Linked DNA regions of Homo sapiens: region 1 is linked to region 2. A link means that fine-mapping ties the variant in region 2 to the expression of a gene that starts in the linked region. Tissue or cell type: whole blood. Region 2 holds a variant in brackets; the other region holds the start of a gene. All regions are shown on one strand. Distances are from middle to middle. Region 1 holds the start of LCMT1-AS1 (LCMT1 antisense RNA 1). Region 2 has its middle 18 kb from the start of LINC02175.

Region 1 (2,909 bases), 26 kb after region 2:
CACTTACTATCCACTAACACCCGTGGAATGTGGACACTGCTAAGCTGGGAGATGATGCTTGTGCAATAGTTTGTATTACCCTTTTGGCAAAGGACCACTCCAAGAAAATGGTGTATTTCATCCCATCAGCATTCCCCCTGGCAAAGCTCTCCACCCTTAGTCATTCCCCTCTTGTCATTTCTACTGTGGCTATCAATGAGATCTTGTGCCTCCATTAGAATACTGAGCTAGCATTTGATATTTGACCTCACTCCAAGGTGTGTATTCTGGGTTTCTGTTGTTGATTTTCTTTTTAAAAAAATGAGTGCAATTCAAAGTTCTTAAAGTATATCTGTTTCCTGCTTCCAACAACTGACAGATAACAAAATGGAATATACAAAGACATTTTTAATTTATAATGTATATTAAACATTATTATACATATACAACTTACAAGGGTTGCTTCTGGCTGGATTCTCTGCCAATCGCCCGAACACTGAGGATTCTGCTAGTTGTTCTGCCCTGAGTTAATTATAGCTATAAAATTTCATCACCAGCAAGAAACCAGGCGACTTCCCCAGTACATCTTGAATTTATACATATATTTTGTACTAGATTTAGTACAAAATAAATCCAAAACATCTTGAATATGCCTCATAATGAAACAGACACACGTGAACCCACTCCCACGTGAGAAACTGAGGATGTGTCTATGTGCTCCTTCCCTGCCTCTCCCTCCCCCTCTTGTGTGCTACCCTCCCGGCTCCCTAAAGATCACCAATATCCTGATTCTTTTTTATTTTTTTTTCTCATGTCTTGCCTTCTCTGTACAGTATTTTACCATATATGTACGTTTCTCTAAACAACATTAGTTTTACTTGGTTTGAACTTTACAAAAGTGTTGTTAGACTTCCTTCTTTCACTGAACATCGTGTTTCTGAGATTCAGCCATTGATGCTGCTACCTGGTAGCTCTAGTTCATTTATGATCGCTGCTACATGGCTTCCTATTGTATTACTTTTCCACACACTACTTCCCTCACTACATTTCTTTTCTTTCTTTCTTTTATTTATTTGTTTATTTATTTTTTTGAGACGGAGTCTCGCTCTGTCGCTCAGGACGGAATGCAGTGGCGCCACATGGGCTTACTGCAACCTCCGCCTCCCGGGTTCAAGCGATTCTCCTGCCTCAGCCTCCTGAGTAGCCAGGACTAAGGCGGCCGCCACCACGCCCGGCTAATTTTTGTACTTTTAGTAACAACGGTGTTTCACCATGTTGGCCAGGCTGGTCTCGAACTCCTGACCTCAGGTGATCGGCCCGCCTCGGCTTCCCACAGTGGTGGGATTACAGGAGTGAGCCACTACGCCCGCCCCCCTCACTACATTTCGAAGGCAATTTTGGGGGCAAAGCCCTCAGCACAGTCGCTGGCAGAGTCAGCACACAACAAAATTTTGTAAAATTGAATGACACTGAGCCCGGACTGAATGTAACAACTTACACATGTTGCTTCTGGCTGGATTCTCTGCCCTTTGCCCGAACGCTGAGGATTCTGCTAGCTGTTCCGCCCTGAGTTAATTATAGCTATAAAATTTCGCGACCAGCAAGCAGAAACCGGGCGACTTCTCCAGACACCTAAGACTACGCTTCCCAGAAAGGATTGCGATACTCTCCTACTGTTTAGTTTCTTTTTCCTATCGTCAAATTTCCGGGTTATGTGGGCGGTGCCAAAATAATTATCCAATGAGCAACTTCGTAGGCTGAGCGGGCAGGAGAATTGCTCAATGAGCGACTCGGAAGAGGAGCCAATAAGCGGAGAGGTTGCTGGGGTAGCCGGCGTGGGCGGCGTCACTGAGCCGCGCCAGCTGAGCCAGGTAGGGCCCTACCCTCTTCTGTTGCTTTCTCCCTGTGGCTCGCGCCGTCCCCCGCCGCCCGTCGACCCCGCTTCCATGTCCCTGGCGGACACAGCTCCCAGGAACCTCCACGCCCATGGCCACTAGGCAGAGGGAATCCTCTATCACCTCCTGCTGTTCCACCTCGAGCTGCGACGCAGACGACGAGGGCGTGCGCGGCACCTGCGAAGATGCTTCCCTGTGCAAGAGGTGCCTGTCGGGCGCGGGGTTCGGGGCCGGCATCTGGGGCGCGGGCCTAGGTGGGAGGTGGGCCTGCATCTGAAGAATACGCTCAAGGCTGGCAGGGATGCAGCCCCCGCCTCGCACGACCCTCGCTTCCCACCTGTGAAGTGCACGGAGCAGGGCTTCATTTATTTAACGAATCGTTTCTGAGCTTTTGCTGTGAGCCAGGCAGGGGGCCAGCCTGGGTATCGTCGATGGGAGCAGGCCCCTGAGCCAGACAGACGAGGCCTTGGGCTTCTTGGAGCTAAACGCTGCTGGAAAGACAGACATGAAGCAAATAGTAGCTCCAGCCTCGATGGGTTACGAGGATGAGAGGTGTAGGTTCTCTCTCTTTTGTAGGTTGCATTCTTTAGGGGGTTGGTGTGATCCCTGTTGTGCACCTGAAACTCAGGATGACGAGGGGAAATAACCCACCCAGAGCCAAGTAATATCTCTTTGCAGAGCCAGTACCGCACTAAGTCTCCACTGTTAAGGGTGTGGTGGTGGGGATGGGGGCGTAGCCAGCAGAGGTACGTGTCAGAGAAAGAGAAAGCTTGAGGCTTGAATGTCCACCATTTATTCTTTCATTCAACAAAATTTTTTGAGACCTTACTTTGTGCCAGGCCTTTACTTTGCAGTGGTTAGTAGGAATTCGATGGTGGAAATACACCAAGAACAAGACAGACATGGTGTCAGACATACTGGAACTCACAGCTTTGTTGGAAAAGAGAGACAGGAAGCAAATAATTACCTATGAAATATATAATTATGATTTTTTTGTGTTGAGTGCTGACAAATACGGCAGTGCCATTAGAGTTT
Region 2 (2,919 bases):
TCCCAGCGTTGAGAACTGTAAGAATAAATCTTTGTTCTTTAGAAATTACCCAGTCTCAGATATTCTGTTACAGCAGCACAAAACAAAGTGAGACAGAGGGTGTAGGGCAGGAAATTTCCTCACCCAATTCAGTGAAACTGTAAATTGGTAAAAAAAGGACTTGAAAAGCCTGGCAGTGGCTATTCATAATGTGCAAACTCTGCACTAGCGATTCCTGCAAACATGCACATATACTTGTATTTGCTATAACACTGTTTAATATAAAAACATAGGCTGGGCACAGTGGCTCACACCTGTAATCCCGGCACTTTGGGAAGCTGAGGTGGGCAGACTGCTTGAGCTCAGTTCAAGACCAGCCTGGGCAACTTAAGCCCAGGAGTCTGAGGCTGCAGTGAGCTGTGATCGAGTCTCTGTACTCCAGCCTGGGCAACAGAGTGAGACCCTGTTTCAAAAGAAAACAAAACAAAACAAAAAATAAAAAGGCAAAAATCTAAGTGATTATCAGTAGGGAACAGATTAAATGGAGGGGAATTTCCCCTCTATTAAGATTAAATAGATTAAATAGAGGGGAATTTCCACAAAGGAGTACAATAAAGCAATTATAAATAACGATGCAGATCTGTATATGCTGACATGAAAAGAGCAAGTTACAAAACATGTATGTTATTCACTATTAAAATTACATAAATGTTTATATTTATAAACAAGTGGTAGAGACTCATTCATTCAACAGAAATATACTGAACTACAGGATATAGCTGTTCAGTGTGTATGTACATTTGTTCAACAGAAATATGTTGAACCAAAAAAAAAAGAAAAGAAAGAGGAGGAGATGAGTCCATGTACTCCTCAGTTTACTCATGAGCTCATTTACTGCACAAATGCAGACACTCACTACAAAAATGGCAAATATATATTTGCTACTGTTCAAAGCAAGAGCCCCTCTAAAAAGGCCTTCACTAGCTACTGGGAAGGCTACATTTGAGGCTACAATGAGCTATTAACCTGCCACTGCACTCCAGCTTGCGTAACGGGAGACCTTATTTACAAAAAAAAAAAAAAAAAAAGAAGTAAATAAACAAGACTTTAATTACATTCGGCCCTAAGCACATACAGTAAAAATTCAGTGGATGCAGGTCTCAGGTGAGGTCAGCGAAGCATTATGCTCAGCATTTGATGTCCAAATCACAAACGGATCATGAAATACTTACATGTAGAAATAACTAAGACTTGGCTGGGCGCAGTGTCTCATGCCTGTAATCCCAGCACTTTGGGAGGCCAAGGGTGGGTGGATCACGAGGTCAGGAGTTCAAGACCAGCCTGAACAATATGGTGAAACCCTGTCTCTACTAAAAAGTACAAAAATTAGCCGGGCTTGGTGGCACACGCCTGTAATCCCAGCTACTTGGGAGGCTGAGACAGGAGAATCGATTGAACCTGGGAGGCAGAGGTTGCAGTGAGCTGAGATTGCGCCATTGCACTCCAGCCTGGGCAAAAAGCGCAAAACTCCGTCTCAAAAAAATAAATAAAAAGCATATTTAATATAAAATATAGCTTTATATTGGGAAAGGCTGAAAAACTTAATTTCATAAGACAAACTAGAAAAAATAAAGCTTGACGAATATTTCCCATTTGTAAGTATTAGTCTTCTCTACAGGACAAGCTGAAACACATATTAATTTTTTAAAAGAATTAAGATTTTATTTACATGATTGATTAAAAGGGGTATGGGAATGTAGTTAAAACTAGTAAGAAGCCTTGAACTTGGGCTTAAAGTCACAGTTTAAATCTCAGCTCCACTCTTTCCTAGC[G/A]AGGTGACCTTGGGCACATTATCTTCTTTGAGCCTCAGTTTCCTCATCTGCAAAAACGTGATAATAACAGCACTTAATTCACGAGTCCGCTGTGAGGACTGAATGAAACAACCCAAGCAAACCACTTAACATGCTACTAGGCACGAACACTCAGCACACATTAGCAAACTTGTCATCTGCAACTTTGCAAACTCCTTGAATACCGGACTCGGAATGGCCCCATAATATCTCATCTATAATAACTAACTTCAGTCTTCCATTCATTCACACATACAAAAACCATTTACTGCACATCTAGTCTGGGCCAGGTAACCTTCTCTATGCCCTGGGGATCAAGAAAGACACATAAAGATTCAGATTATGAAATTATGAGAGGTCATTTTTTAAATGTTCAGGCAAATTACATTAATTGCTAGAAGAGTCGTAAGGAAAAGGATATCGCATTCTGAAGACTGCACGACATGCTGGAGTGAGGATCCCAGGCCAAGAAAGCAAGTGGGGAGGGGGTCAAAGGAAAGCAGTTCCCTAAAGTGAAATCTGCCATCTACCGAGAGCTGGGTGTGAATTCTACCTGGTTCTTTTTCTTCTGGCTAAACCACACTTACTTAATACTGTGTAGCTTTCTCATGACGATCATTTGAAAGTTGACCTCAACTTATTTATTTACTTATTTAATTATTGACACGGAGTATCACTCTGTCACCCAGGCTGGAGTGCAGTGGTATGATCATGGCTCACTGCAACCTCCACTTCCCAGGTTCAAGTGATTTTCCTGCCTCAACCTCCTGAGTAGCTGTGATTACAGGTGCATGCCACCATGCCGGGCCAATTTTTGTATTTTTAGTAGAGACAGGGTTTCATCATGTTGGCCAGGGTGGTCTCGAACTCCTGGCCTCAAGTGATCTGCCCGCCTTGGCCTCCCAAAGTGCTGGGATTACAGGTGTGGGCCACGGTGCCCAGTCAAACTCAACATATTTACTTGGGAGACGATCTTCATCCTGGGGAAAAACACAGAGTATCTGTAATTATTTCTCCAGTCATATGTTATGATCATATTCCACGAACCAAGCACTAGACACCTAAGAGCAATCAGGTGTGTAAGAATTTA

The links.
Region 1: it holds the start of LCMT1-AS1, and the variant in region 2 is fine-mapped to the expression of LCMT1-AS1 in whole blood (TOPMed, PIP above 0.99).

Annotation. Positions count from the first base shown.
Region 1 is chr16:25,109,919-25,112,827 of GRCh38, forward strand. It overlaps LCMT1-AS1 (LCMT1 antisense RNA 1), which reads right to left and starts at 1,637. Exons shown (of 3, transcript NR_120306.1): 1 at 1,478-1,637. It overlaps LCMT1 (leucine carboxyl methyltransferase 1), which reads left to right and starts at 1,824. Exons shown (of 11, transcript NM_016309.3): 1 at 1,824-2,078. The coding sequence starts at 1,966. RefSeq lists enhancers at 1,247-1,774, 1,552-1,881, 1,972-2,131.
Region 2 is chr16:25,083,915-25,086,833 of GRCh38, forward strand. No RefSeq gene overlaps it. Among named protein-coding and RNA genes, the nearest start is that of LINC02175, 18 kb to the left of the region's middle. The variant G/A (reference allele first, on the strand shown) is at 1,812.